Regions from separate parts of the Homo sapiens genome. Here regions 1, 2 and 4 are each linked to region 3. Evidence: fine-mapped expression QTL. A gene starts in region 3. Each other region holds a variant in brackets. All regions are shown on one strand. Distances are from middle to middle.

Region 1 (8,109 bases), 440 kb before region 3:
TTCATTCATTCATCCAATTAACAAATGCTTGTGCAGCACCTCTTGAGTACTAACACTTTGTTGTGATCAAAAGTCCCTGCTCTCATGGCACTTTTGATCTAGAGAGCAGGCAATAGGCAAATCATTAATGATGGTGATAAATTATAAAAAGAAAAATCAGAGTGGCCAAGGGTAGGCTGGCTGGGGCACTGGGGAAGGTACTGCTTTAGGTGGAGTGGTCAGGGAAAGACTTTTTGGGAGCTGAACTTTGAGAATACACCTGAATGAAGTAAGGTGGCAACATTTAAGAAAACTGGGGACATTATTCAGGCATAAGAAACAAGTGCAAAGGCCTTGAGGTGGAAGTAAACATGGCATGTTCAGGAAAAACAGGGTCAGTGTGTCTTGAGAAAGGGAAGATTGATGATGCAGACAGGCAGCAGGCACCAGGTTAAACACAGATTTTGTAAACCACCTTAAGGCTTTGGCTTTTATTCTAAGCAAGATGGGAAGTTACTGGAGATTTGGAGCAGAAGAGTGATGTGATATGACTTAAGTCTCGAAAGCATCACTCTGAGTGCTCTATTGAAGATAAACCATAAAAAGGCAAAGAGGAAGGCAGGGATTCCAGTCAGGAGGCTATTTAGTGCAACAGTTCACAGCATAACAGCTGCTTGGATGAAGGTAAGAATGCTGATGTTAAGAAGGGCTTGAAGTTTTGACATGTTTTGTAGGTAGAGGTGCCAGAATTTGCTGACGGACTAGATGTGGGTTATGAACAGAGTAAAGTATCACTCTTGTTTTGTGGCCTGGAAAGCATGCCTGGAAGAAGGAAACTAAGTTTAATTTTGGACATGCTAAGTCTGACACTGATTTCCAACATTCAGAGGTTAGGAAAGTGAGAAGTATTTAGCAGAGGAAACTAGAAGGAGTAAGCAGTGAGGTGAGAGGAAAAGCAGGAGAGTATGTGTCATGAAAGCCAAATGAAAACTGGATTTTTCTTTTCATGGCTTTTTTTTTTATTATACTTTAAGTTTTAGGGTACATGTTCACAACGTGCAGGTTAATTACATATGTATACATCTGCCATGTTGGTGTGCTGTACCCAGTAACTTGTCATTTAATGTTAGGTATATCTCCAAATGCTATCCCTCCCCCCTCTCCCCACCCCACATCAGGCCCCGGTGTGTGATGTTCCCCTTCCTATGTCGATGTGTTCTCATTGTTCAATTCCCATCTATGAGTGAGAACATGCGGTGTTTGGTTTTTTGTCCTTGCAATAGTTTGCTGAGAATGGTGGTTTCCAGCTTCATCCATGTCCCTACAAAGGACATGAACTCATCATTTTTTATGGCTGCATTGTATTCAATGGTGTATATGTGCCACATTTTCTTAATCCAGTCTATCACTGTTGGACATTTGGGTTGGTTCCAAGTCTTTGCTATTGTGAATAGTGCCGCAATAAACACACGTGTGTATGTGTCTTTATAGCAGCATGATTTATAATCCTTTGGGTATATATACAGTAATGGGATGGCTGGGTCAAATGGTATTTCAAGTTCTAGATCCCTGAGGAATCGCCACACTGACTTCCACAATGGTTGAACTAGTTTACAGTGCCACCAACAGTGTAAAAGTGTTCCTATTTCTCCACATCCTCTCCAGCACCTGTTGTTTCCTGACTTTTTAATGATCGCCATTCTAACTGGTGTGAGATGGTATCTCATTGTGGTTTTGATTTGCATTTCTCTGATGGCCAGTGATGAAGAGCATTTTTTCATGTGTCTGTTGGCTGCATAAATGTCTTCTTTTGAGAAGTGTCTGTTCATATCCTTTGCCCACTTGTTGATAGGGTTGTTTGTTTTTTTCTTGTAAATTTGTTTGAGTTCACTGTAGATTCTGGATATTAGCCCTTGACTTCAAACTATACTACAAGGCTACAGTAACCAAAACAGCATGGTACTGGTACCAAAACAGAGATATAGACCAATGGAACAGAACAGAGCCCTCAGAAATAATGCTGCTTATCTACAACCATCTGATCTTTGACAAACCTGACAAAAACAAGAAATGGGGAAAGGATTCCCTATTTAATAAATGGTGCTGGGAAAACTGGCTAGCAATATGTAGAAAGCTGAAACTGGATCCCTTCCTTACACCTTATACAAAAATTAATTCAAGATGGATTAAAGACTTAAGTGTTGACCTAAAACCATAAAAACCCTAGAAGAAAGCCTAGGCAGTACCATTCAGGACACAGGCATGGGCAAGGACTTCACGTATAAAACACCAAAAGCAATGGCAACAGAAGCCAAAATTGACAAATGGGATCTAATTAAACTAAAGAGCTTTTGCACAGCAAAAGAAACTACCATCAGAGTGAACAGGCAACCTACAGAATGGGAGAAAATTTTAGAAAACTGGATTTTAAGGAGGACTTTGTCAAAGGCACTGGGGGGTTAAATAAATATGAACTGAGAATTGGCCAGGGGATTTGGCATTGTGGTGGCTGTCACTGACCTCTACAGGAACAGTTTCTTTTTTTTTATATGCAATAGATGTCTTATTTTATTTTATTATTATTATACTTTAAGTTTTAGGGTACATGTGCACAATGTGCAGGTTCAATGAATTGTTGGAGTGAGTTTGAGTGAGATTGTGAGAGGAAGAAGTGGAGAAAGAGCACAGACAACTCTTCTGAAGAATCTGCAGTAACTAAAAGCAGAGAAATGGGGTAGCAGAATGTGACTGTGTGGTTAAGGAAGGGTTTTTAAAAGATTTGACAAAATTTCAAACTAAATTTTGAAGAGAATAATCTATTAGAGGGAGAAAATTTGATGATGCAGCTGTTAAATCCTTGAGTAGACATGAACAGATGGATCCTGGGGAAAAAAGGGGAGGGTTTGATTTAGGTAGGAGGCTTGATACTCTGTGTTACCTACCTATTCTTCACAGAGAGGAAGGGTACAGAATATGGGTAATGATACAGGTAGCTGGTAGATCTGGTAATAAGAGAACTAAAATTTTCCTCTGACTGCTTTATTCTCAGAGAAATAAAAAGCAATATCATCAGCTGGGAGTGAATAGAGTGGGAAGGGGTATTTGAGATTTGAGAATAGAGCAAACGATATAAAACAGTCTCTTACGGAGTGGTAACTTGAATTGACCAGAAAGTTAGTTCCATTGCTAGGTAGTTCTGAGATCTGTGAAAACTAATTAAAAGTAATGTGGGATGTGGGGTGTGTGTGTGTGTGTGTGTGTGTGTGTGTGTGTGTGTGGTTTTTTTTCTAGCAAAGTCTAATGAAGTATACTGATACTGAGGCATCATGTGTATTAATGTACATGTGTGCTATGGTCCAAATGTCTGCATTTCCCCCTCAATAAATTCATACATTGAAATCCTAACCCTCAAGGCAATGGTATTAGGAGGTGAAACTGTTTGGGAGATAATTAGGTTATAAGGGCCAAGCCCTCGTGAATGGGATTAGTGCCCTTATAAAATAGGCCCAAGGCCATTATCCTAAGAAAATTAATGCAGAAACAGAAAAACAAACACCGTATGTTCTCATTTACAAGTGGGAGCTAAACACTGGGTACTCATGAATATAAAAACAACAACAATAGACACTGGGGACTATTAGAGGGTGAAGACAGGGTGAAGTACAAGGGTTGAAACTTACCTGTTAGGTACTATGTTCACTACCCGTGTGAGGGGATTATTCACATCTCAAATGTCAGAATCATGCAACATACCCATGTAACAAACCTACACATGTACCCCCAGATCTAAAATAAAAGTTAAAATGATTTTATACATACATACATATATATGTAATTATTTTATACATATATGTATACACCCACAGCCAAATTTCCTATTAATATTTAATTAAATATTTGTATTTATTACCTTAAAAAAAATAGGCCCAAAGGGGAGGTTCTTTCATCCCTTCTCCCATGTGAAGCCATAGCAAGAAGGTGCAAACTATGAGGAAGTGGACCCCCACCAGACACTGATTCTGCCAATCTTGATCCTGGACTTCTCAGCCTCCAGAAATGTGATAAATAAACTTCTGTTGTTTATAAACTGCTCAACTTAGAAAATTTTGTTATAGCAGCCCAACAAACTAAGATGGCATATACGTATTATGTATGTGTATATTAATGCATATACATGTACATATATACACACATACACATGTAATACATACATAAATGCACAATACACATATACAATATCTATGCCACACGCACAAACACACACTATCTATGCAAGAATATACAAATGTAGTCTTTTAAGGCATTGTACATGGTTTTTTTTAATCAAGAGTTTCACAGATTGCATTTTCCAAAGATAACTACAATATCTCCCATGACAAGTGGTCTTTTGCAATAATGTGACTTTGATACCCTTCCAGCATGACATGGAATCTATTTTCCCACAGTTTTGAATCTGGGCAGGCCCTGAATATGCTCTGACCAACAGATATGGCAGCAGTGAGCTAGGCCAGTTCTCAGCCTTTAACTAGTCTGGCTGCTTCTGCTTCCTGCATTTTGGAATGCATGTTCTTGGGAGCTGAGGCCATAAGTAAGGAGTTTCAATGGTGTGAGTGAGCAATCTTGGATACCTAGCCCAGCTGAGCCTTCAAAGGACTACAGCCCCTACCAATACTCAACTGCAACAAAATGAGAAACCCTAAATGAAAAATGCCCAACTGAGTTCACTATATCCAGAAAAGAATGAAAAATATAGTTATTTTAAGCCACTAAGCTTTGGATGGTTTGTTATGTAGGTAACTGAAACAATTACACAATTTTTTTCAATAGAAAATCAGTTGTTTCCAAATACATGAAAATGAAATTACTTATCCTACACCAACTGTGTAAAGATGCACAAAGAAGGAAATGGATTAAGTAAAGCAGCACTGTTATTATAACCAATGTGGTGTTAATTTCTTTTTC[C/T]GGGCCAACCTAATGACCTCTCTGACCAGAGACCCTAGCAGTAGAGGCTCCACCAACATTGCTCCGACACCGCACTGTGTTCTTGGGCTTGTTAGCATAAGACAGTATATACCACTCAAGGTGAGCAATCTGGGTGACTAGCACCAGAGCATACATTCACCTAGAATGATCTGATGCCACAAAACAGCTGAATACCTCACTCAGGAAAAACAATCCTTTTCTACTTAGAGACCTGCTCCTCAGTGGATTAAAGTAACAGTATAATTAGGTTGGCACTACAGGTTTTGTTTTCTGGCACAATCATCCCTATTTCCTGTCACTGCTAAAATAAAAGGAAAATTCAATGAGGAGGAGATTGGGCAGAAGAAATCTGTATAGCTCATCTTAGCAACACATCCAGCCTCTGCAAAAACCCTACAGACTAATATTTGTCAAGATCAGTCACAGATTATTTGGAAAGTACACTGAAGAGTCAGCAGAAACCATAAATTTAGAATGATTAAACTACTTTACAAACGCATGCCAAGTACAATTTGCCTCACTGTTGTGAAACAATCCCTGGAGCTCTGCAGAAAAAAAGAATATGTTTTAGTGCTCCTGTTTTAAAGATAATTTTTGCTAAATTATTTTTAACCCAGTATGGAAAGAAACGTTGTGCCACAGTGATGCCTCTAAGTCAGTAAATGAGCAAAGTTGTAGGGCATTTGCCAGAAAGTATATTACCTTTATTTTAAAACTACATATGCTTACGGACCAATTAATATAAACACAGCATCATAAAAATCTAATTAAATAAAAATGACATCAGAAATTTTGCTATCCTCAAAGAGAATAATGTCCTGCCACTAGTACTAAAAACTTTACATCAAAATCAATTTAATGGAAGATAAACATTGTTTCCTTCCAATGTTGTTGTGGGAAGATTACCAGATCTCCCCTATTTTACATTTTCTTTTTGAATATTCCTTTATACATAAGTAGATGGGTTTTTTCTCACTTTCTTTTTAACAAATTAACCATTAAGAACTTGAGTTTATTCAAAACTCCCAAAACAGCATTCTTTTTTCATTACTACTAATCTTCAAGTCTCTTCTCATGAAGTAACCTCTAATCCTATTCTAGATGTTTTCTTATATTCCAAAACTCATCCCAATATAATGAAAAGATTTCTAGACTACAGTACTTGGAACCCTAATGACCTTTATGTCAAAAATACCTTTAAATGGCCAGGCACAGTGGCTCACGCCTGTAATCCCAGCACTTTGGGAAGCTGAGGTGGGTGGATCACGAGGTCAGGACATCGAGACCATCCTGGCTAACACTGTGAAACCTCGTCTCTACTAAAAATACAAAAAATTAGCCAGCCATGGTGGCGGGCACCTGTAGTCCCAGTTACTCGGGAGGCAGAGGCAGGAGAATGGTGTGAACCTGGAAGGCAGAGCTTGCAGTGAGCCGAGATTGTGCCACTGCATTCCAGCCTGGGGAACAGAGCGAGACTCCGTCTCAAAAAATAAATAAAATAAAAATAATAATAATAAAATACCTTTAAACCCAGGAATCTAAACTTTCATTTTAGTTTGCCGAACAACATAGTCAGCAACTGAGTACAAAAGATAGAAATTTTTGTGAAACAAAACAGTATCTAAACCAAAGCTAATTCACACTGATTTTCAAGCACATATTTACAACAAATGAAAATGCAAAGAAGCGATATGAAAATTCTTTTTCTCTTCATTAATATGAGGAAGTATCCATACAATATGTATTTCCTTGGCACATACATCTAACTCCTCCACATCTCAAGGGCCATGATATCATCCTCAGTCTATCCCCAGCCCAAATACATCCTCCATTATAGAGTTGATATTCCAAATAACAAATAGCATTATAGCTCTAATCCTCTCTTACAACACATATATTTGCAGGAGAGCTAAGATTTGTAAAAATCTTTCTATTCCACAGAGCAGATCTTCATAAGAAAGGAACAACACCAAAGGTAGAAAGGTAGAAAAAATATTAGAGATATGACAATGGAGGCTGTAGTTGCTGAAGTCATCCATTCACGGATGGATAGATGCCAAGTGAAGGGCATCCATTCACAATTCTGAACAAGGCAGACTTACCTAACAGTGGGCAGTAAACAGCTGAGGCGTTCTCAGGCTCACAGTCACTCCTACTACACAGGACAGATCAAATCTCTACTTAAAGTCAGTCCTCGATGTGTCCATAGGCATCTCTTCTTAGGGAGACTAATAAAAAGCCAGCCTCAATCCTTCCCATGCACAACTATCCACTCCACCAAACATTAAAGGTGAAAGCTGGAAAGTAGATGACTTGTCAAAGAATAGAAAACTAAAAAAGCCCTAAGAGTAAGGTGGAGGAAGACAAGTGAGGAGGGTGGGAAACAGGGAAGAAATCAGTAAGATGCAAGCCTCTGCAGAAAGGCTCTGAGACTGGAGGTACCAGAAATCTCTGAAGCCTAGAAGTATTATCCCCCTTTACCCCCAACCCTTTCCCAGTGTGCTTTCCACATCGAGCTCCCCAGATGTTAACAACCAGGCTGATACCTGCATATGAAGAATGGAGAAGATTCCTCTTTAGGAAAACTCAGCCCAGGGGAAAAGATCCAGAAATATTGACAGCTGCTCTACTTTTTCCATCAAAAGCCAGGCCCTCTTCTAATCCCTCTAAAGTAATGTTCACTAATTGATAAATACTAGCCCAATTCACAGAGCTTTCTGTCAACATTTTAATGCCTCATTCTTAAATATGAATGGACAAAGAACACCATATAATAAGGAAAGCTTCCAACATGAAGGAAAGAGACCAAAGCAATCAGAAAAATAGATATTGGAGGAAACAGACACAATGACAAGAATAAAAGAAAATTTCAAAGAAAAAATAATTAATATTTTACAAGACCACAGAAATTATAGCACATCCATCCAAAGAAGAATAGGGCATAATAAAGGGGCATAACCCCCAAAACCCAAAAGGGCTTTTGGAAGTTAAAAGCAGGCTAGTCGTAATTTAATATTAAAAAACAGTAAAATAATGGAACACAAAATTGAGGAATCCTGCCTGAAAGCAGAATGAAAAGGTAATGCAATCCAATAGATAAATGGGAGACAAAATGTAAGAAAATTAGTGCATCATTTGAAGATGTCC
Region 2 (8,109 bases), 260 kb before region 3:
CCCTTTACCATTATGTAATGCCCTTCTTTGTCTCTTTTGATCTTTGTTGGTTTAAAGTCTGTTTTATCAGAGACTAGGATTGCAACCCCTTCCTTTTTTTTGTTTTCCATTTGCTTGGTAAATCTTCCTCCATCCCTTTATTTTGAGCCTATGTGTGTCTCTGCACCTGAGATGGGTCTCCTGAATATAGCACACTGATGGGTCTTGACTCTTTATGCAATTTGCCAGTCTGTGTCTTTCAATTGGAGCAGTTAGCCCATTTACATTTAAAGTGAATATTGTTAGGTGTGAATTTGATCCTGTCATTATGATGTTAGCTGGTTATTTTGCTCGTTAATTGATGCAGTTTCTTCCTAGCATCGATGGTCTTTACAATTTGGCATGTTTTTGCAGTGGCTAGTACCATTTGTTCCTTTCCATGTTTAGTGCTTCCTTCAGGAGCTCTTGTAAGGCAGGCCTGGTGGTGACAAAATCTCTCAGCATTTGCTTGTCTGTAAAGGATTTTATTTCTCCTTCACTTATGAAGCTTAGTTTGGCTGGATATGAAATTCTGGGTTGAAAATTCTTTTCTTTAAGAATGTTGAATATTGGCCCCCACTCTCTTCTGGCTTGTAGAGTTTCTGCCGAGAGATCTGCTGTTAGTCTGATGGGCTTCCCTTTGTGGGTAACCCGACTTTTCTCTCTGGCTGCCCTTAATATTTTTTCCTTCATTTCAACTTTGATGAATCTGACAATTATGTGTCATGGAGTTGCTCTTCTCGAGGAGTATATTTGTGGTGTTCTCTGTATTTCCTGAATTTGAATGTTGGCCTGCCTTGCTAGCTTGGGGATATTCTCCTGGTTAATATCCTGCAGAGTGTTTTCCAACTTGGTTTCATTCTCCCTGTCACTTTCAGGTACACCAATCAGACACAGATTTGGTCTTTTCACATAGTGCCATATTTCTTGGAGGCTTTGTTCGTTTCTCTTTACTTTTTTCTCTAAACTTCTCTTCTTGCTTCATTTCATTAATTTGATCTTCAATCACTGATACCCTTTCTTCCACTTGATCAAATCAGCTACTGAAGCTTGTGCATGCGTCACATCGTTCTCGTGCCATGGTTTTCAGCTCCATCAGGTCATTTAAGGTCTTCTCTACACTGTTTATTCTAGTTAGCCACCCATCTAATCTTTTTTCAAGGTTTTTAGCTTCTTTGCAATGGGTTCAAATATCCTCCTTTAGCTCGGAGAAGTTTGTTATTACCAATCGTCCGAAGCCTTCTTCTCTCAACTCATCAAAGTCATTCTCCTTCCAGCTTTGTTTCATTGCTGGCGAGGAGCTGCATTCCTCTGGAGGAGAAGAGACGCTCTGATTTTTAGAATTTTCAGCTTTTCTGCTCTGGTTTCTCCCCATCTTGGTGGTTTTATCTACCTTTGATCTTTGATGATGGTGACGTACAGATGGGGTTTTGGTGTGGATGTCCTTTCTGTTTGTTAGTTTTCCTTCTAACAGTCAGGACCTTCAGCTGCAGGTCTGTTGGAGTTTGCTGGAGGTCCACTCCAGACACTGTTTGCCTGGGTATCACCAGCGGAGGCTGCAGAACAGCAAATATTGCAGAACGGCAAATGTTGCTGCCTGATCCTTCCTCTGGAAGCTTCGTCTCAGAGGGGCACCTGGCTGTATTTGGTGTCAGTCAGCCTCTATTGGGAGATGTCTCCCAGTTAGGTTACTCCCAGTTAGCCAGGCGTGGTGGTGCAGGCCTGTAATCCCAGCTACTCAGGAGGCTGAGGCAGGAGAATTGCTTGAACCCAGGAGGCGGAGGTTGCAGTGAGCTGAGATCACGCCACTGCACTCCAGCCTGGTGACACAGCGAGACTCCAACATAAAAAAGAAAAAGAAAAGAAAAGAAAAGAAAAGAAAAGAAAAAGTGGCTGCCATTGAAGCCCTAGATAATGGTGCACTACAGAAAGCCACTGTCTTGTTCAGAGATGCCATCAAGCTGAATCCTCGCTTGACCATTCTGTATGTCAACACAGTCAGTATCTTCATCACATTACAGAAGCCAAACACTGCCATTCGAGACTGACAGAACAAATGAAATAAATTCTGATTTGGCTCAGCCTTATAAGTGGTGAGGGAAAGCACACAGATTTCTGGGCCATTGGAAAGAAGCAGCTATAATCTTGACCCTGACCATAACTGGATTATGATGAAGATACTAGTACAATGCTGAAAGAAGTTCAACTGAGGGCCAAGAAAATTGCACAACATTAGAAAAAGGTTGAATAGAAATATCAAGAGTAAGAAATCAAAGAAAGAATAAAAAGGGTTAAGAAGGCTCCGTAAGATCATGAGAGAGCTCAGAGGGAGAAAGAAGCCAGATGACATTCAGGAGCTCAGTATGGCTCTTTTCCAGGTGGCTTTCCCAGGGGGAATGCCTGGTAATTTTCCTGGAGCAATGCCTAGAATGGCAGAAATGCCTGGATGCAATGAAATTCTTAGTGATTTAGAGCAGGAGTGTTCAATCTTTTGGCTTCCCTGGACCACACTCAAAGAAGAATTGTCTTGGGCCACACATAAAATACAGTAACACTAACGAGAGCTGATGGGCTTTTTAAAAAAATTGCAAAAAATCTCATAATGTTTTAAGAAAATTTACAAATTTGTGTTGGGCCACATTCAAAACTGTTCTGGGCTGCATATGGCCCATGAGTTGGACAAGCTTGACCTAGAGGTTCTTGCAGCCATGCAGGAAACAGAAGTTACAGTGATCTTCTAGGATGTGGCCCAGAACACAGCAAATATGTCAAAACACCAGAGTAACCAAAAAAATTATGAATCTCATCAGTAAATTGTCAGCCAAATTTTTAAAGTGAAGGAAAATGTCCTTTGGACAAGTAAAAGGCCCTAGGTGAAGGAAAAGCAAACTAGATCACCTAATAAATGTTACAATAATACAAACCGGTGTACCTCTGATCAAGACAACTAGAAGGCTTTCAAGATCATCTCTACCCCTCTTCCCCAAATGCAGCTGAATATTTTACTGTGGTTTGCCATTAGGATATTCATTCAAATCATGTGTTCCTGCTAGAAATTACAAACTATAATAAAATACTAAATATTTATTCACTAAATATTTATACTGAATAAAATACTAAATATTTTAAACCTTAAAATATTTAAAACAAAAGGATTTGTTAGTTCATATATTTTTCTTTAATAATCATTTTGTATTTTTCCTTTATTAGGCAAGAAAGATACTTAAGTATGGAAGATTTATTGCTCTGGTTTTAGTGAAACACAGGTTTACAAATGGGAGGCAAATAAAACTAATTTAAGTAGATAAAGCTTGAGTTGAATACATGACTACTGAGGAATTTTGATTTCTCTTTTTAAATGGTTTTTTAACATGAATAATTCTGATAAAAATATTGATATTCCAGTATTTCAACAGAACCTGAGGAACAGGTTCTGTTTCTCAGAAACAGACTGGAAATACTTGGTATAGCAGCAGTAATCTTATTATGTTTTACATAGCATGCACCCTCTTGTCAGTTGCATTTAAACC[T/A]TACACGATGGTAAAGAATTTTTTTTAATGCTCCAGTAGAGCTGGATTATTCAGCTCTGTTCTTGTTCAATATATCATGAAAATGTTTCATATTATCTCAACAGCGAACAGGCGAAGACTCTCAAAACACAACAGTTGTTTTTTTTTTTTTAATTCAAAAATTAAAGAGGAAGAGATGATTGCAACTTCATTCTATGAGGCAAGCACTGCTCTGATACCAAAATCAGACAGGGACACAACAAACAAGAAAACTATAGGCCGATAATCCTGATGAATATAAATGCAAAAATCTTCTACAAAATATTAAATACTCAAATTCAACAACATATCAAAAACATCATTCATCGTGATCAAGTGGGATTCATCCCAGGGAATCAAGGATGGTTGAACATGTGAAAATCAATAAACATGATATATCACATCAACAAAATCAGAGACAAAACCCATATCATCATTTCAATGGGTGCTGAAAAAGCATTTGATAAAGTTCAAAATTCCTTCATGATAAAACCTCTAAACAAACTGGGTATGGAAGGAATTTACCTGAACACAATAATGGCCACATATAACAAACCCATAGCTAATATCATACTGAAGGAACAGGGAAAAATTGAAAGTCTTTCCAAAGAGATCTCAAACAAGACAAAGATAAGACTTCCACCACTTTTATTTAACATAGTACTACAAGTCTTAGCCAGCACAAACAGGCAAGAGAAACAAGTGAAAGGGTACCCAAACTGGAATTTTAAAAGCCAAATTATCCTTGTTTGCAGACAACATAATTTTTTTTTTAATTTTACTTTAAGTTCTGGGATACATGTGCAGAACGTGCAGGTTTGTTACATAGGCATACATGTGCCATGGTGGTTTGCTGCACCTATCAACTCGTCATCTAGGTTTGAAGCCCCGCATGCTTTAGGTATTTGTCTTAATGCTCTCCCACCCCTCCCCCACAACTCCGGTGTGTGACGTTCCCCTCCCTGTGTCCATGTGTTCTCATTGTTCAACTCCCACTTATGAGTGAGAACGTGTGGTGTTTGGTTTTCTGTTTCTGTGTTAGTTTGCTAAGAATGATGGCTTCCAGCTTCATCCGTGTGCCTGCAAAGCCCATGAACTCATTCTTTTTTATGGCCACAATGATCTTATATTTAGAGAAACCTAAAGACTCCACCACAAAAAAGCTTAGAACTGAAAAACGTATTCAGTAAAGTTGCAGCATACAACCTCAACATACAAAAATCAGTAGCATTTACATATACTACCAGTGAAAAATCAAAAAGGCAATCTGATTTACAATAGCTACCAAAAATAAAATAAAATACTTAGGAATAAATTTAACCAAATAAGTGGAATATCTCTACAAGAAAAACTACAAAACACTAATGAAAGAAACTGAAAAGGACACAAAATAAATGGAAAGGTATGCCAGATTCATGGATTGGAATAATTAATATTGTTAAAATGCCTATACTTTTTTTGTTTTTTTTTTTCTTTATTTATTTCTAAGATACAGGGTCCCATTTCATCACCAGGCTGGAGTGCAGTAGAACAATTAGCTCACTGCAGCCTTAAACTCCTAGGCTCAAGGGATCCTCCTGCTTCAGCCTCCCAGGTAGCTGGGACTACAAATACACCCACCATGCCCAGCTAATTTTTTCTTTTAATTTTTTGCAGACATACGGTCTTGCCATCTTGCTTAGGCTGGTCTCGAACTTCTGGGCTCTAGTGACCCTCCCACCTCAGCCTCCCAAAGTGCTGAGATTACAGGTGTGACCTATCACATTCAGCAAAATATCTATACTTCCCAAAGCAATCTATACATTTAATGCAATTCCTATCAAAATACCAATGACAGGAGAAAAAGATGGAGCAAGATGCTGAAATAGAAAGCTCCACTGATCACCCCACTAAGAGTACAACAATTTAACAAAAAAAAAAAAAACAAAAGAAAAGAAAAAAAAAAAAACACCTTCATGAAAACCAAAACTCAGGCAAGTACTTACAGCATCCGATTTTAACTTTACATTACTGAAAGAGAAAATGAAGAAGTAGAAAAAACAGTTTTGAATCACAGACATCACCCTTCCCCCAACCCATAGCAGCTACTGCATAGTGCAGAAAACAATTCTGTATGCTGGGGGAGAAACAGCGCGGAAATTGGGAGGCACTGAACTCAAAGCTGTTCCATTAGAGCAGAAATAAAAACCAGAATAAATTTGGCTGATGTGTGCCCATGAAGAAAGCATTTAAACCAGCCCTAGGCAGAGGAGAATAGCTGATCTCAGTGATTGGAACTTGAGTTCCTGAAAGTCTCACCACCTCAGGCTAAAGGCTCTGGGGCTCTAAATAAATTTAAAAGGCAGTTTAGGCCACAAGGACTGTAACTCCTAGGTGAGTCCCAGTGGTGAACCAGGCCCTGAGCCAGTGGATTAGGGAACACACAATCTAATGAGATAACAGCTAGGGTAGCTAAGAAAGTGCTGGCATCACCTCTCCCTTAACCCCAGGCTGTACAGCTTGCAGCTCCAACAGACCCCTTCCTTCTGTGTGAGGAGAGGAGAGGAAACAGTGAAGAAGACTTTGTCTGGCATCTTGGATACCAGCTCAGTCACAGCAGGATAAGGCACTGCTCAGAGTCGTGAGGTCATGAGGTCCCCTTTCCAGGCCCTAGCTCCCAGATGACATTTCTAGACATACCCTGGCCCAGAAGGGAACCTGCTGCCTTGAAGGGAAGGGCAAAATCCTAGCAAAATTCATCATCTGCTACCTAAAGAGCCCCTGGGGCCCTGAATAACCAGGAGTGATACCCAGGTATTACATCAAGGGTCTTGGGTGAGAATCTGAGACTTGCTGGCTTCGGGGGAAACTCAGCACATTTCCAGCTGTGTTGGCTACCGGGCAAGCCTTCTGCCTGAGACAAGTGGAGGGGAAAAGGAAACAAGGCTTTCTCTTGCACCTTAGGAACCAGCGTGGTCATGGGTGGGTACAGAACAAAGCAGGCTCTTGGGTCCCTGATTCCAGGACTTGGCTCTTGGACTGCATTTCTGGACCTGTCCTGGACCAGGGAGGAGCCCACTGCCATGAAGGTGATTCCCAGGCCAGGAAAGAGTCACCACAAGCTGACTGAAGAGCTCTTGGCCTTAAAATATTGGTGGTAGTCTGGCAGTAGGCCCCGTGGGCCTGTGATGGCAGGAGCCACAGGATGAGGCTCCTCTGCCTTCGGAAAGGGGAGGAAAGAAGGGGAAGGATGGTGTCTTGTGGTTTTGGTGCCAGCTCAGCTATGGTACAAGAGAACATAAGGTAGACTTCTAAGGTTTTTGACTCTAGTCCCTGGCTCCTAGATATCACCTCTAAACTCACCCAGGAACTGGGGAAACTCAGTACCCTGAAGGGAAGGACACAGACCTGACTGGCTTTGCCAGCTGCTCATTCTAGAGCTCCAGGGCCTTGAACAGACATATATGGTAGCCCGGGAGTGGTTACAACAGGCCTTGGGTGAGACCCAGTGAGACCTGGCTTCAGGTCTGACCCAGCACAGTCCTAGTGGTGGTGACCACAGAGGTGCTTGTGTCACTCAAACTCCAGCTTCAGGTGACTCGAAACAGAGAGAGAGACTGCTTGTTTGGCAGAAAGTAAGAGAAGAGAACAAGAGTCTCTGTCTGGTAATACAGAGAATTCTTCCAGATATTGTCCAAGACCATCAAGGTGGTCCCTCTACAAGTCTGAAAAAACCACAGCATTAACTAGACTTGGGGTCCCCCCTAAAGCAGACACAGCTTAAATCACAACATCCAAGTCCCTCTGAATATCTGGAAGGCCTTCCTAAGAAAGACAAACAAGCTCAACAAATAACTAACTCAAAGACTACCTTAAATAACTAACTCTTCAATGCCTACCACAGACAAAACTCTACAAGTATCAAGACCATATCCAGGAAAATATGGCCTTACCAAATAAACTAAATAAGGCACCAGGAACCAAATCTAGAGAAACAGAGATATATGATCTTTCAGACAGAGAACTCAAAATAGCTGTTTTTAGTAAACTCAAAGAAATTCAAGATAACACAGAAAAGAAATCCAGAATTCTATCAGGTAAATTTAGCAAAGAGATCGAAATAATTTAAAATAATCAAGCCAAAATTCTGGAGTTGAAAAATGCAACTGATGTACTGAATAATGCACCAGAGTCTGTTGAATCAAGAATGACTCATTGTGCAGAATGAATCAAGCACAAGAAAGAATTAGTGAGCTTTAAGACAGGCTATTTGAAAATACACAAAGGAGACAAAAGTTAAAAGAATAAAAAACAAGCAAGATGACAGGTTTTAGAAAATAGCCTCAAAAGAGCAAATCTGAGAGTTGGCATTAAAGAGGAGGTAGAGAAAGAAATAGGGTTCAGAACTTCACTAAAAGAAATAATAACAGAGAACCCTCCAAACATAGCGAGAGACATCAATATCCAAGTTCAAGAAGGTTACAGAACACCAAGAAAATTTAACCCACAGAGGACTACCTCAAGACATTTAATAATCAAACTCACGAAGATCAAGGATTAAAAA
Region 3 (8,109 bases):
TATTTTTAGTAGAGACAAGGTTTTGCCAGGTTGGCCAGGTTGGTCTCGAGCTCCAGACTTCAAGTGATCCTCCCGCCTCAGCCAAAGTGCTGGAATTACAGGCATAAGTCATCATACCCAGCCCTAATTTTTAAATTTTGTGTAGAGATAAGGGTCTTACCATGTTGCCAAGACTGGTCTTAAACTCCTGGACTCAAATGATCCTCCTGCCTCAGCCTCCCAAAGTGCTGGGATTACAGGCACAAGCCACCGCACCCAGCCTATTGCTTTTATTTAGAGATACTAAGTGCCATGGTCACTTCTGCCTGCCAAGAGGCCAAAAACCACAAGAGGGCTGGGCAGGATGTCAGGAGGGGAGAAAATTCGGGCCTCTGCTACACCCCCCACTTCAAACCGTGTGACTCACTTTGGGTCCCAATTTTCATGTATGTGATAAAGTTTGAAGGACTGGATCTTGGATGTGGTGGGGTAACTGATGTGTGACAAATCTGCAGGGCTGTGCCCAGTTAGAGGGAAAGCTGAAGGTACTAATTAACTAGTTAAGCCTGGGAGAGGGCACAAGCAAGAGGTCAGCAGGAGAAGCAGACACTGGAGGACCGCCTGGCCCATACACCCTCTCCAAGAAAGGCAGTCCTCCAGTTCCTGCCAAGAGGACAGCAATGAGGGCTTGGGGTACAATGGAGTAGAATGGCTGCACTGGCAGCAGAAGGTAGCCTTGGGAGGGAGCCACTGAGTATGACTGAGGCCAAGATGAACCAAGCAGGTGGTCAGGGGCTAAGGGAAAGCGGAAGAGGCCCAGCTCCCTGGGAGGGAGGGACCTGCTCCTCTAGGGCCTCCACAGAATAGCAACAGTTACAAGGACAGTGGCCACAGCTCTTCCTGTTTTATGAGTGTTTGCTGAGTTTCAGGCTTCCTGTTAAGCACTATCTTCCATCTTGGGCAACAGAGCCAAGAGGATGAGCATGAGACAAATGGGCAGAGATGGCCTGAACAAGGTCAAGTTATAAGATGAGGACAGGCCACCCTGGTTAACCTGGAGTACATCACCAGGGAGGCAGAAAGACACAGAGCCCACGACTGTTGCCTAGGCTGAGCTGGGGCAACTGCGGGGAGAGGGCTAGGCAGATGCAAGGAGAGGACTGTGATCCATCATGAGCTGGCTAAGCTCCCTGGGCCCAGGCCTGCCCATGTACTGAGGTCCCCAGGTCCTGGTCTTCCTGGGCAATGGGCAGAAGCTATAAGTGGGGAGATGTCACCTTCCTCCTCGTGGCCACAGCTACCACTCACAAGACAGGTAAAATAACTGTACCAGAGGTTGTGCTTAGCCCAATATTGGGAGATAGTAAATGCCTGCTTAGCTGGGTAAGGACTTCTAGGCTTGGTCACTAGTGATACTAAGAACAGGAAGGTCCTGGAGTGGGAGCCACATCTAATCCATGTCCCCTTTGAGGGCCAATTTAGGGCCAGATCCTGAAGGTCCCAAGCTAGTAGCCTTAGCCATGCTCACCCATAAAGGGGTACAGAGGGAAATCCACTCCAGGCCTGACCCAATTCCCAGTCCAGAACAAGGAGAGCACTGATGAGGTGCTGTGGAAGTTCTTGCAGTCAGAAGTTACCCCAAGTCACTCATCAGACATAGCATCTATGGGGAAGGGGTTAAGTCCAGTCTTACTTAAAGCTGGCACTGTGTGGGCCTACAAATTCTGGTCTCCCACCCCATCCCTGACTCACCCACAGCATCTGGACACCACAGGGGCTGGTCAGAGCTCAGTCTTGGCCCACAGGGTCAAAGCCTTGGTATTAAGAAGTGGGTCTCTGGCCTCAATCCCTCACCCACCCAGCCTGCCCTCAATCCTAGCACAGGTGGAAGGTTAAATAGTGCCCAGAGGGGGATGAAAACTCTCATTCCTCATCCTCTTACCCCCGTCTGCCCTCAGAAGAGCCACTTTTTCCCTAAAAGACTCAGAGAATCCCATTCCTGATACTCTGAAAAGCTCCCCGACCCCATTCGACTGCTGGGTTAGTGGGCAAAGAAGCTATACCTGGGGCCCAGCCCCACCAGCCCAACCCTGATCCTCTCCTAGACCCACCCGCATGTTCCCCTCCAAGGTACTCCGGGGAGACAACCTCCTCTGTTGGCCCTAGTGGTCCTGGGAAAGACACAGAGAGCTGGGTCCAGCTCCCTGCTCAGATGCTTTAAGACCTTGTGCCTTAAATAAGTCCTGTAACCTCTCCAGACCTGTATCAGGTCCTGTACCAAGTGCTTTAAATGTATAATCTCATTTCATGTTCACAACAACTCCTTATCTTTCCCCATGAATAGATGCAGAAACCTGGCTTCCAGAGTCTAGGATATCATCCAAGGTCATGAAACTGGCAAACACAGGATAGCTATTAGCCATATCTAGAGGACTCTGCACTTGGACTCATAATTAAAACTTGTGTAAAGGCCGGGCACGGTGGCTCACGCCTGTAATCCCAGCACTTTGGGAGGCCAAGGCAGGCAGATCACGAGGTCAAGAGATCGAGACCATCCTGGCCAACATGGTGAAACCCTGTCTCTACTAAAAATACAAAAAATTAGCTGGGCGTGGTGGCGCACGCCTGTAGTCCCAGCTACTCAGGAGGCTGAGGCAGTAAAATCGCTTGAACCTGGGAGGTGGAGGTTGCAGTGAGCTGAGATTGTGCCACTGCACTCCAGCCTGGCGACAGAGTGAGACTCTGCCTCAAAAAAAAAAAATCTTTTGTAAAATGAGAAGGGCCTTTGCTGTACTTCTAGCCTCCAGGAGCCACTATCCCTGCCATGCTCTACCCATCCATTGGCACAAGCTACAAATGAGTAAAGACCCCAGAGATGACAGATTCAAGGGATTCTGGGTATGGGGTGTGGCCCTAGGCCCAGAACTGTATGCCTTAAGCTGGAACCAGGTACCCGCCCCCAGCATCCCCCTGACCCCCACCATGCCACCTATATCAGCATGCCAGGTCTCCAGGGAGCCTATAGTCTGAGGTGGCTAGATGGCTGGCCCGCCCTCTGCCCAGGAACCAGGGGTGGGTTGGCCCAGGGCCTGTCCCTTTCAACACGGGACCAGCGACTCGTCAGGAGTCTATCAGCAGCCTCCTGAGGCTCCACAGGTGCAGTGGGCATCAGCCTTGTCCTCTGGCCAGCCCTGGGAGGCTCACACCACTCCAGCCCAGACAGGCAGGGGCCACAGGGAAGAAGCAGTCCCACCCAAGCCTTGGTGGGGTCTCAGCTTCCAGCAAAGGGAAACAGATCCATTCCAGTCAGAGGAGCTTCACATGGAAGGGGCAGCCAAGCTGAACAAGAGATCCCCTTTGGGCCTGAACACATGGGTCCAGCCAGAATCCCAGAGTCAGGAGTCACCCCTTCCCTGCTTCCGGATACAGCATCTCTAGCCATAGTGACTCCACCCCTTGCTCACTGGGACACTCAAAGCTTAGCTAGGCTACGCCTCAGTTTCCCCATCTGTGAAGTAGGGAGGACCACAAGCCTGACCTTACAGGACAGTATGACGATGAAACATGTTGCTGAGCATAGGAAGCTTAGCAGGGGCGCTAGACATAGCTTCACTCACAGGCTTCCGCTGTGGACCCTCCAGGATACCCCAGGCCTCAGTGAGGGCTCACTGACCTTCAGGGCACACTTCTGTCCAGTGCGCCGATGGAAGCACTCCAGCACTTTGCCGTTCACACCCAGGCCCAGCACCTGCTTGGACAACTGGTAGTCGTCGGTCACTGCGTACTTCTTGGGCTCCCGCCGCCCCCCCGGAGCACCGCCCAAGCCGGGTCCGCCGGGTGCAACTGGCGGGGGCACAGGGCCCCCCTGCTCCTCTGCTGTTTCACCATCCATGGCCCCCGCGGGGCGCTCAGAGGCGGCCCCAGCCTGGCGCTTCTAGTGGCACCTGGGGGAAAGGGGAAGAGTGAGTCCCGCCCAGACTTTTCCAACACACCCCAGCCTTGGAGCCTCTGAACTGGGCTGGGCTGCGAGCCCGGGGCAAGCTGGGAGTGCGGGACGAACGGCCTGAGAGTACAGACGTGCAGCAAGGGGCGGTGGTCGCGCGGCGGGGTACAAGCGAGCACCGCCCGGGCACGTGTCAAGAAGGGAAGGGGCCGGGCGCCTAATGGCCGCGAGGTCCCCGGAGGAGGCCGCAGAGGGGGCCCAGCGAGGGCGTACCTGGCGGCAACGCACCTTGCTGAGGTACCGGCGAGGGGCAGGAGAGGCGGTCGCGGGAGCTGGCGGCCGCAGAAATCCCAGGGCCGAGAGTCGCGCTGCCGGCGCCCACGTGACCTCCCCCCCCTCCCCACCCCCCCCTCCCCCACTCCCCCACTCCACCCCCCGCTCCCTGCGCGTCATCCCAACTTGGGGCCCCGCTAGGTCAGCCTTAAAGGGCCAGGCGGGCCCCGGCTGGGTCCCGCCCCCGAGCCGGAACAAAATAGGAGGCGTGGCTTCCCGAGGGGGCGGTTACTTCCTCGGTTTCCAGGGACACCCAGGGAGGCCCCTGTACTGGCAGTCCGCTACTGTGCGGGTCCCGGGTTTTACTCGCAACCTAGAACGTGACAGCGCAGGACGTCTTATTTCTCTTGAAAGCTCTCCTTGAGTCGGGTGTTTGCTCTGCACGCTGCCAGGTGGCCCTCCAGTATGGCTTGCTAGGCTTCCGACTTGCCTAGTGTTGGCCAACCCTCAGCGTACTCAACTTTTTAAACATGCCGAGGGAGGTGGCATCTTGTCGTTGTTGAATTCGCCACTCTTTAGTCTCTGGTGGCTCTGGGAGTCTCCAGCACTGGCGACTGCCCCCTTTTTGCAGCTCCCGCTTATGCCCTTGACTCGCTGCTTCCCTTTGGTATATACAGCATCCTGGGGACCAGAAATCCCGAGTTGCCATTTGATCAGATCCGCCAACATTTCACCTTATGGTTTGGGCTTTTGGCGTCGTGTTTAAAAAGTCTCTGTCTCCCATCCGAGTGACAGATATTCTCCATTAGCTTTCTAGTTTTGCCTTGCACATATAAGTCTCTGTTAAGCCCATCTTAGACTACCTTACGTATTTTGAGCCAGTTTTCCCAACACCGGCTGTTAAGCAACTCTCATTTCACAGATGAGGAAACTGGGACCCCTGGGGAGAAAACAACTTGTCTAGAGCCATAGGGAGGGTGGCTGTGGCTGTCTTCTGGGACAGATCTGAACTACTTGCGCACATCACATCACTCCCCCAATCCGGAAGCTGAGGGACCTGAGCGAGCTGGCTCACTTGGAACTGGGAAGGTGCGGCTCAGCGCAGGGGCTCTGCATGGGCCTCTGCTGTCATCTACAGGCCATCTACAGGACTGCAGGTACCAGGACCTCGGTTCCACTCAGAGGCGTCTTCCAGCCATCCTACTCTTGGCTCCGGAATTTAGGCCCAGTGAGCGCCTCCCCCTCAGCCCCTCTGGTTAACACACGCACACTCACGGACCCCTGGGCTGCATGTGCAGGCTCATCAGAGAAGTAGCTCTTGGAAAGATGATCTTCTGTCAATGAATGAGTGAATGAGTGACTGAAAGGGTGCTACAACTTATTAGTGGGTACCCACTGTGTGCAGATGTTGAGTGGAGATGGGGTTGGGGCTCTGCCCCTATTTCTTTCAGGCAACCTTCAAGCTAGCAGTGTTCAGTGAAGCAGGAGGCTCCAGACAATAGCCTCAGCTGGCCATAGTGAACACTTCTTGCAGACCAGATGCTGGGAATGTGCTCTCCCTGCAACCCCCTGACCTTACAGAGCCTAGAGGAGGTCACACTATCCCTTCTGCCCCACACTACAGACACACAGGACAGAAAAGCCCAGAGAGGTTAAGTGACCTGTCTGAGGTCAGCAGCTGTCATGACAGAGCCCCCATTCCAACTCCAAAGCACAACCTCAGGGCTGGGCTCTTATCCTCAAACCATGGCCTCCTCTCCTAGTCCTTTCTGGCTCCTCACACAGCCACATGTGCAAACATACTCTCACACATGTACACATGCAGTCACACCTTTACACATGTGCACACACATGCATATAACACGTATAAACACACATGCATATAACACACATGCACACAGATACACATGCACATGTGCACACACACATGCATTTATGCCCAGCTGGACCCAGGATTGATGTCCCTGAGCCCAACCTGAGAATCTGATTCAAGATCTCAGAGCCTCTTTGAAAGCCCTATGATCTGGAATCTTCTACTGCTGGGGGGAGCCAAAGAAGGCTCTCTGCTCTCTGAAGGCAACTAGTTTGAGCCTGGTGAACCTGAGGCTGAGCAAGATGTCATTCTGGTGAGCAGAAGGCTAGGCAGCTGAGGGTGGAGGCTGGCTCCTTGCCCCAGCCAAAGGCATCCCACTGAATGTTCTGTGAAGATGTCTTCTTTCTTTAAAATGGAATTAGATTATAATTGCTCTACAAATTTTATAATTGTATTTTTTAAGCTGGTCTCTTTTATTAAAATTTTAAGTTGCATAAGTAAAACTTCCTCATTGTAATTAATTCAAATTATACAGAAGTATGAAAAGTAAGGCAAAGGTGCTGCTTCTCCCCTCCCAGTCCCTATAACCAGTGTCCATGCTTCCACAGGCACACGCATTCCCCACATGGGTCCATCGGAGAGATGCCTTGAAACTACTCACTTAGCCCAGGAAAGTCAGAATATGTGGTTTCCCTTAGTGCTCATGTTCCAGCAACCACCTGCAGCATCCCCTCCACAATGATGGGAGGATTTGGCATGCAGGATGGCTAGGTCTGGTCAGGAGTGGGTTCATGATGGCAGACTCTGCCACACAGCCCTTCATGTAGCTGTGTGTCCAAGGGGACAGAGACTTTGGAATAGCTTAAAGTGAGGGGGGCTAAATCCTACACACACACACACACACACACACACACACACACACACACACTCTGTCCTTACTGGAGAGGGGAGGCTGTACATGGTGAGAGGATGGAGGCCAAATGAGCGAGACTTTTGGGAAGGCACTGCTGTGTATTCTTGTGATTCATCTTGTGATTGTTCTGGGTAGGGAGTGGCAGGGGAATCTTGCAGTAAGTTCAATCCCTGGGGTGCAGGAGAGGGATTATCCTAGAAGAGAAGAATCTATGGAAATTTGGCTAGTGAGGGCATGAGAGGGGGCACCGCTAGGTGGCAGTGTGGGCCCAGCAATCAGAGCCAGGGTTTCTAGGGAGCAGCCAGGGCAGGAGAATTAAGTACTAAGTTGGCCAGAGGGACCCAACTTAGTACTTGGGGCAGAACAGGGGCACATCACTGTTCCCAGCATGCAGGTGAGGTGCACAGTGCTGTCATATTCACACACACACAAAAATAGTTGGAAGGCCAAAACCCTTGGAACCCTTTGGTTTACACATAGACTGCATAATCACTGACCTGTAGGAGATACTTTCAAAGGGACACCCATGGTGCTCTGACATGGACAGGCCTGGGGGCAGAGAAGCTTCACTGAGGACCTTAAAGCTGGATGTCTAGGAGTCGGCAGATCACCAGCACCCATAGAGGAAGTAGGAGGAAGTGTGTAGGCTCCTGGCTTAAACCATTACTTGCCAGCTGGGAGATCTAAGTTATATTGTAACCTCTCCATGCCTCAGTTTTCTCACCTGTAAAGAGGAGATAATATGTGGTAGTTGTGACAATGACATGAGGCTGCAAATTGCTGAGAGTGCTTGACACATAGTAAGTGTTCAGTTGAATAGTCATGGTGAGGGGGAAGAAGTATAGTTTTGGTAGAGAGCTTGGGATTTGGCCCCATAAGAGACCCAAGTTCAAAATTGTAACTCTGTTGCCTGGCAGCGGCAAAGTCCTTTTGTCTTCATAGTAATGAGACAGTGGACAGTTCCTACTGGCAAGTCAGTGGTCCACACAGGGGCCGCATATCAGGCTATCCAGGTATCCCAGCCCTCAAAGTGGGTTATAAGGTATCCATCCCCCCTACCCCCATTCCAAGAAAGTGGCTTCTGGCCAACTCAGGAGGGGGCTGGCAGAGTTGCACTCATGAAGCCCGGCTTCCCTTCAGGAAAGCTACAGAGAAGTGACTGCCCTGAAATCTGAAACTTAACGTTTT
Region 4 (8,109 bases), 170 kb before region 3:
GTAACATACTTCACAAGAAGATCATCTCCAAGATATATAATCATCAGATTCTCCAAAGTCAAAATGAAAGAAAAAATGTTAAAGGTAGCTAGAATGAAAGATCAGGTAACCTACAAAGGCAAACCCATCAGACTAACAGTGGACCTCTCAGGAGAAACCCAAGCCAGAAGAGATTGGGGGCCAATATTCCATATTCTTTAAAAAAAAAAGAGAGATTCAAACCCAGAATTCATAGCTGGCCAAACTGAGCTTCACAAGCCAACAAGAAATAAGATCCTTTTCAGACAATCAAACACTGAGGAAATTCGTTACCCTCAGACCCGCCTTAAAAGAGCTCCTGAAGGAAGCACTAAATATGGAAAGGAAAGACCACTACCAGCCACCACAAACACAAACTTAAGCACACAGACCAGTAACACTATAAAGCAACCACACAAACATGTCTCCATATTAACTAGCTAACACCATGATGACAAGATCAAATCTACACATATCAATAATAACCCTGAATGTAAACAGGATAAATGCCCCAATTAAAAGGTGCAGAGTAGCAAGCTAGACAAAGAACCAAGACCCATTAATATGCTGTCTTCGAGAGATCCATGTCACATGCAAACACCCACAGACTTGAAATAAAGGGATGGAGAAAAATCTACCAAGCAAGACAAAATAGAAAAAAGCAGGGGTTGCAATCCTAATTTCAGACAAAACAGACTTTAAACCAACGAAGATCAAAAAAGACAAATTAGGGCATTACATAATGGTAAAGGATTCAATTCAACGAGAAGACTTAACTATCCTAAATATATATGCACCTAACACAGGAGCACCCAGATTCATAAAGCAAGTTCTTAGAGACCTACAAAGAGACACAGACTCCCACACAACAATAGTGGGAAACTTCAACATGCCACTGACAGTATTCAATAGATCATCAAGGCAGAAATTAACAAAGGTATTCAGTACTTGAACTCAGCACTGGATCAAATGGATCTGATAGAAATTTACAGAACTCTCCACCCAAAAGCAACAAAACATACATTCTTCTCATTGCCACATCACACACATTCTAAAATTGACCACATACTCGGACACAAAACACTCCTCAGCAAATGCAAAAGAAGTGAAATCATAACAACCACTCTGTCAGACCACAGCACAATCAAATTAAAAATCAACACCAGGAAATTCACTCAAAACCTTACGATTACACATAAGTTAAATAAACTGCTCCCAAATGACTTCTGGGTAAATAATGAAATCAAGGCAAAAATCAACAAGTTCTTTGAAACTAATGAGAACAAAAATATAATATACCCAAAATCTCTGGGACACAGCTAAGGCAGTGTTAAAAGGAAAATATATAGCACTAAATGCCTACACCAAAAAGAAAGATCTGTCTCAATCTAACATCACAACTAAAAGAATTAGGGAGCTAAGAGTAAATCAAGCCCAAAGCTAGTAGAAGACAAGAAATAACCTAAATCAGAGGTTGCACAGAAGGAGAGGAAAACATGAAAAACCATTCAAAAGATCATTGAAGGCAGGGGTTGAATTTTTGAAAAGAAAATTAATAAAATAGGCCAGGCAAGGTGGCTCACGCCTGTAATCCCAGCACTTTGGGAGGCTGAGGCAGGTGGATCACGTGAGATCAGGAGTTCGAGACCAGCCTGACCAACAAGGCGAAATCCCGTCTCTACTAAAAAATACAAAAATTAGCTGGGTGTGGTGGCACATGCCTGTAATCCCACCTACGGGAGGCTGAGGCAGGAGAATCACTTGAAGCCAGGACGTAGAGGTTGCAGTGAGCTGAAATCATGCCACTACACTCCAGCCTGGGCAACAAGAGCAAAACTCTGCCTCAAAAAAAAAAAAAAAAAGAAAAAGAAAAAGAAAATTAATAAAACAGATAGATGGCTAGCTAGACTAATAAAGAAGAAAAAAGTGAATATCCAAATAAACACAATTAGAAACAGCAAAGGGGATATTACCACTGACCCCAAAAAAATTCAAATAACCATCAGAGACTATTATGAACACCTCTATACATATAAACCAAAAAATCTGGAAGAAACGTTTACATTCCTGGACACATACCCCCTCCCAAGACTGAACCAGGAAGAAACTGAATATGTGAACAGACCAATAATGAGCTCTGAAACTAAATTTTAATAAACTTCCAACCAACCAAAAGAGGCCAAGGACCAGACAAATTCACAGCCAAATTCTAACAGATGTACAAAGAAGAGCTGGTACCATTCTTACTGAAACAATTCTAAAAAACTAAGGAGGAGGGACTTCTCCTTGACTCATTCTATGAGGCCAGCATCATCCTGATATCAAAACCTGGCAGAGAACAGGCCAATATCCTCAATGAACATCAGTGCAAAAATCCTCAATGAAATATTCGCAAACCAAATCCAGCAGCACATCAAAAAGCTTATCCACTATGACCAATTTATCCCTGGAATGCAAGATTGCTCTAACGTATGCAAATCAATAAACGTGATTCATCACATAAACAGAGCTAGAAACAAAAACCACATGATCATCTCAACAGATGCAGAAAAGGCTTTTGGTAAAATTCAACACCATTTATGTTAAAAACTCTCAATAAGCTTGGTGAAATAGTAACAGATATCTATGACAAACCCACAGCCAACGTCATAACCAATCTATAAAGCTGGAAGCATTCCCCTTGAAAACCGGCACAAGACAGAGGTGCTCTCTCTCACCACTCCTAGTCAACATAGTATTGGAAGTCCTTTCCAGAACAATTAGGCAAGAAAAAGAAATAAACAGCATCCAAATAGGAAGAGAGGAAGTCAAACTACCCATTTGTAGATGACATGTCCTATACCTACAAAACCCCACAGTGTCAGCCCCAAAGCTCCTTAAGCTGAAAAACAACTTCAGCAAAGTCTCAGAATACAAAATCTACGTGCAAAAATCACTAGAGTTCCTATACACCAACAACAGCCAACTTGAGAGCCAAATCGGAACAGAATCTCATTCACTGCCATAAAAAGAATGAAATACCTAGAAATATAGCTAACCAGAGAAGTGAAAGACGTCTACAAAAAGAACTACAAAACATTGCTCAAAAAAAAAAAAAA[T/AT]CAGAGATGACACAAACAAATGGAAAAATATTTCATGCTAACAGAGAAGAATCCATATCATTAAAATGGTCATACTGCCCAAAGCAATTTACAGATTCAATGCTATTCCTATCAAACTACAATGACATTCTTCACAGAACTAGAAAAATCTATTTTAAAATTCACATGGAACAAAAAAAAATCCCGAATGGCCAAGGAATAAAAAAATATCCCGAATAGCCAAGGCAATCCTAAGCAAAAAGAACAAAGCTGGAGGCATCATGCTACCCAACTTCAAACTATACCACAGGGCCACAGAAACTAAAACAACATGGTACTAGTACAAAAAACAAACACAGAGACCAATGGAAAACAACAGAGCACCCAGAAACAAGGCCACACACTTACTACCATCTGATCTTCAACAAACCTGACAAAAACAAGCATTGAAGAAGACTCCCTATTCAATAAATGGTGCTGGGATAACTGGCTAACCATATGCAGAAGATTGAAACTGGACCCCTTCCTTACACCATGCACAAAAATCAACTCAAGACAGATTAAACATTTGGCCAAGTGCAGTGGCTCACACCTATAATTCCAGCACTTTGGGAGGCCGAGGCGGGTGGATCACCTGAGGTCAGGAGTTCCAGACCAACCTGGCCAACATGGTAAAACCCCATTTCAACATGGTGAAACTAAAAATACAAAAATTAGCCAGACATGGTAGCGTGCACCTGTAGTCCCTGCTACTTGGGAGGCTGAGGCAGGAGAATCACTTGAACCCGGGAGGCAGAGGTTGCAGTGAGCCGAGATGGCACCACTGCACTCAATCCTGGGCGACAGAGCAAGACTCCGTCTCAAAAAAAAAAAAAAAAAAAAAAAGATAGATTTAACACTTAAATGTAAACCCCAAAACTGTAATAGATCACCTAGGCCAATACCATTCGGAACATAGGAACAGGCAAAGATTTCATGACAAAGGCACCAAAAGCAATCACAACAAAGGCAAACATTGACAAATGGGATCTTATTAAACTTAGGAGCTTCTGCATAACAAAAGAAACTATCAACAGAGTAAACAACCTACAGAATGGGAGAAAAATTTTGCAATCTATCCATCTGACAAAGGTCTAATATCGTCTACAAGGAACTTAAACAAATTTATAACAACAACAAAAAAAAACATTAAAAAGTGGGCAAAGGACATGAACAGATGCTTCTCAAAAAAAGACATTCATGTGGCCAAGAAGCATATGAAAAAAAGTATCATTGATCACTAGAAAAATGCAAATCAAAATCACAATGAGATACCATCTCACACCAGTCAGAATGGAAGATCATCGCCCAGGCACACAGTCATCAGGTTATCTAAAGTCAAGACGAAGGAAAGAATCTTAAGAGCTGTGAGGCAAAAGCATCAAGTAACCTATAAAGGAAAATTTATCAGATTAAAAGCAGATTTCTCAGCAGAAACCCTATAAACTTGAAGGGATTGAGGTCCTATCTTTAGTCTCCTTAAACAAAACAATTATCAGTCATGAATTTTGTATCTAGCAAAACTAAGCTTCGTAAATGAAGGAAAGATAGTCTTTTTCAGACAAACAAATGCTGAAAGAATCTGCCACTACCAAGCCAGCACTAAAATAACTGCTAAAAAAAAAAAAAAAGCTCTAAATATTGAAACAAAAACCTCAAAATACACCAAAATAGAACCTCCTTAAAGGATAAATCTCACAGGACCTGTAAAACAATAGCAAATGAGAAAAAAACAAACAAGGTATTCAGGCAACAACCACAATGATGAACAGAATAGTACCTCACGTCTCAATACTAACACTGAATGTATGGCCTAAATGCTCCACTTAAAAGATACAGAATGGCAGAACAGATAAGAATTCACAAACCATGCATCTGTTGTCTTCAAGAGACTCACCTAACATATAAGGACTCATATAAACTTAAGGTAAAAAGGTGGAAAAAGATATTCCATGCAAATGAACACCCAAAGCAAGCAGGAGGAGCTATTCTTACATCAGATGAAACAAACTTTAAAGCAAAAGCAGTTAAAAAAACACAAAGAGGGATATTATACAATGATGAAAGGACTAGGCCACGCATGGTGGCTCATGCCTGTAATCTCAACAGTTTGGGAAGCCGAGGTGGGCAGATACTTGTGGCCAAGAGTTCCAGACCGGTCTGGCCAATATGGCGAAACCCCATCTCTACTAAAAATACAAAAATTAGCCAGGCATGCTAGTGCATGACTATCAGTCCCAGCTACTCAGGAGGCTGAGACACAAGAATCGCTTGAACCCAGAAGGCACAGGTCACACCACTGATGACACCAAGATCACACCACTGCATTCCAACCTGGATGACAGACAGAGAGACTGTCTTAAAAACAAACAAACAAACAAAAAAGATTTAAAAACTAGTCCAACAGGAAAATATCAGAATCCTAGATATATATGCACCTAACACTGGAGCTCCCAAATTTATAAAACAGTTACTACTAGACCTAAGAAATGTGATGGATGGCAACACAATAATGGTGGCGGACTTCAATAATCCACTGACAGCACTGGACAGGTTATCAAGACAGAAAGACCACAAGTAAACAATGGACTTAAACTATACCCTAGAACAAATGGACTTAACAGATATTTACAGAACATTCTACCCAACAACTGCAGAATATACATTCTAATCATCAGTACATGGAACATTCTCCAAGATAGATCATATTACAGGCCACAAAACAACTCTCTATAAATTTAAGAAAACCAAAATTACATCAAGTACTCTCTCAGATCACAGTGGAATAAAATTGGAAATTAACTCCAAAAGGAACCCTCAAAACCATGAAAATACATGGAAACTAACCTGCTGCTGAATGATCATTGGGTCAACAATGAAATCAAGATGGAAATTAAAAGTTATTTGAACTGCATAATAGTGACACAATCTATCAAAACCTCTGGGATGCAGCAAGAGGTGCTAAGAGAAAAGTTCTTAGCATTAAACACCTATATCAAAAAGTCTAAAAGAGAAAAAAGAAGACAGTCTAAGGTCACACCTCAAGGAACTAGAGAAACAAAAACAAACTAAACCCAAACCCAGCAGAAGAAAAGAAATAACAAAGATCAGAGCAGAACTAAATGAAATGGAAACAAACAAACAAAAAAGAAACAATACAAAAGATAAATGAAACAAAAACCTCGTTCTTTGAAAAGATAATAAAGGGGGGTGGCCAACAAAGGAAGGGGACGGGGCGGGCACGCGCCCTCGCAGCCACTCGCCTCCCTCCCTGCACGTACATCCACACACCCACCCCCCTCCCCTGCCTCCCTCCCTGCGCTCTGCCCACCCTGCCACCCTCCTTGCCCTCAGGCACTCAGAAGGAAGTCCAGAGACATGGGAGTGGTGGCCACATAGCACTGTGGCCAGCAGCCGAGGCCAGGTCTGAGGAGCAGTCCTGAGGACAGACATTGGGCAGGAGTGAGGGGCCAGCCTGGCTGGAGGTTGTGACTCTGGCTACAGTCCCCCCACTGCAGGGAAGGACTGCCAAGGCATTGATCTAGGCGGTGGAGGTGGCTGGCCCAGATAAGATGCACCAAGTCCCTTGTAGTTCTCTTCAGAAGAAAAATCACTAGTGGTCTGCTCTTGCCATAATACCAAACCTTTTTGACTTATGCTTTGGTGCTGCAACACTGGAAGAATTCAGTTTCCAGGAATATCTTTTTTTCATTTGAGTGATTCTTAGGGATGGAAAAATATTTTAGTCTTAATAATTACCTTGTTTTAAAGCTATTTTCTTTACAGTCTGAACTGCTTAATAAATTGAGTCATTTACCAATGAGGCACACAGCCACTTCTCGTCAGGAGCTGGTTGAAAACTGTGCTGTGCCTGTAGCAGGAATGGCACAAGATGATAGCCGTCATGGGCAAGTGCCATCCAGCTTTCATCATGGTGCCACAAGGAACTTGACCTGTCCACCAAAGTGTAACAAAGGGAACCAGGAAGTCCTTATTCTGTGTTTGTGGACACCAAGATGAGCAAACTACATCTCCATGAAACAGAAGAACAGCCACATTTCAGGGAGACAGGAGCAGAGTCTGATGTGCATGCTATTAAGGAAGACCAGGAGAATTCTGATGACACAGAAGAGGAGGAGGAAGAAGAGGAAGAAGTCTTTTACAAAAGGGAGCAGATCATAGTGGAGGTAAACCTTAATAATCAAACATTAAATGTACCTAAAGGGGAAAAGGGTACCTCTTCTCAATCCAAAGAGACTCCTGTTCTTAAACAATGAGGAGGAAGAGAGAGAGGAAGGGGCCACAGATAACAGCAATGACTATGGAGAGAATGATAAGCAGAAGAAAAAGGAGAAGATAACAGAGAAAGTCAGCGTTACAGAAAGAAGAATGAGGAGAGCTGCCTCTGTTGCTGCAGCTACCACTTCCCCTACTCCCAGAACTACAAGAGGTTGCAGGAAGAGTGCAGAGCCACCTAAGCGTAAGAAGCGGGAAACAAAGGAGCCTGAAGCACCAGTGCAGAAAGCTAAGTGTGACCTGTGAGAAGTGACCCAGGGTTGTTTTTTGTTTTTGAGACAGTTTTACTCTTGTTGCCCAGGCTGGAGTGCAATGGCGCGATCTCGGCTCACCACAACCTCCATCTCCCGGGTTCAAGCGATTCTCCTGCCTCAGCCTCCCGAGTAGCTGGGATTACAGGCATGCATCACCACGCCCAGCTAATTTTGTATTTTTAATAGAGACGGGGTTTCTACATGTTGATCAGGCTGGTCTCGAACTCCTGACCTCAGGTGATCAGCCCGCCTCAGCCTCCCAAAGTGCTGGGATTACAGGCGTGTGCCCCAGGGTATTTAATGCTCACTGGTGTCTGGAGAAGCAAATGAATATTACTCATAGGCACATGCAGATTTGTGATAAATGTGGCAATAAGTTTGTCCTGGAAAGTGAGCTATATCTTCACCGGCAAACAGACTGTGAA

What was found.
Region 1: its variant is fine-mapped to the expression of MAPKAPK3 in whole blood (TOPMed, PIP above 0.99).
Region 2: its variant is fine-mapped to the expression of MAPKAPK3 in whole blood (INTERVAL, PIP 0.97).
Region 4: its variant is fine-mapped to the expression of MAPKAPK3 in whole blood (INTERVAL, PIP above 0.99).

The regions. Positions count from the first base shown.
Region 1 is chr3:51,054,604-51,062,712 of GRCh38, reverse strand. The region is part of intron 5 of DOCK3 (dedicator of cytokinesis 3); the gene reads right to left. Among named protein-coding and RNA genes, the nearest start is that of MANF, 330 kb to the left of the region's middle. The variant C/T (reference allele first, on the strand shown) is at 4,942.
Region 2 is chr3:50,871,448-50,879,556 of GRCh38, reverse strand. The region is part of intron 3 of DOCK3 (dedicator of cytokinesis 3); the gene reads right to left. It also overlaps the pseudogene ST13P14. Among named protein-coding and RNA genes, the nearest start is that of MIR4787, 200 kb to the right of the region's middle. RefSeq lists an enhancer at 5,663-5,892. The variant T/A (reference allele first, on the strand shown) is at 3,549.
Region 3 is chr3:50,613,328-50,621,436 of GRCh38, reverse strand. MAPKAPK3 (MAPK activated protein kinase 3) reads right to left here and starts at 4,286. Exons shown (of 11, transcript NM_001243925.2): 1 at 4,196-4,286; 2 at 3,653-3,923. The coding sequence starts at 3,871. RefSeq lists enhancers at 2,660-3,612, 3,613-4,566, 5,434-5,523 and silencers at 3,833-3,982, 4,233-4,282, 4,293-4,342.
Region 4 is chr3:50,787,130-50,795,238 of GRCh38, reverse strand. The region is part of intron 2 of DOCK3 (dedicator of cytokinesis 3); the gene reads right to left. It also overlaps the pseudogene ZNF652P1. Among named protein-coding and RNA genes, the nearest start is that of MIR4787, 120 kb to the right of the region's middle. RefSeq lists an enhancer at 3,834-4,580. The variant T/AT (reference allele first, on the strand shown) is at 3,117.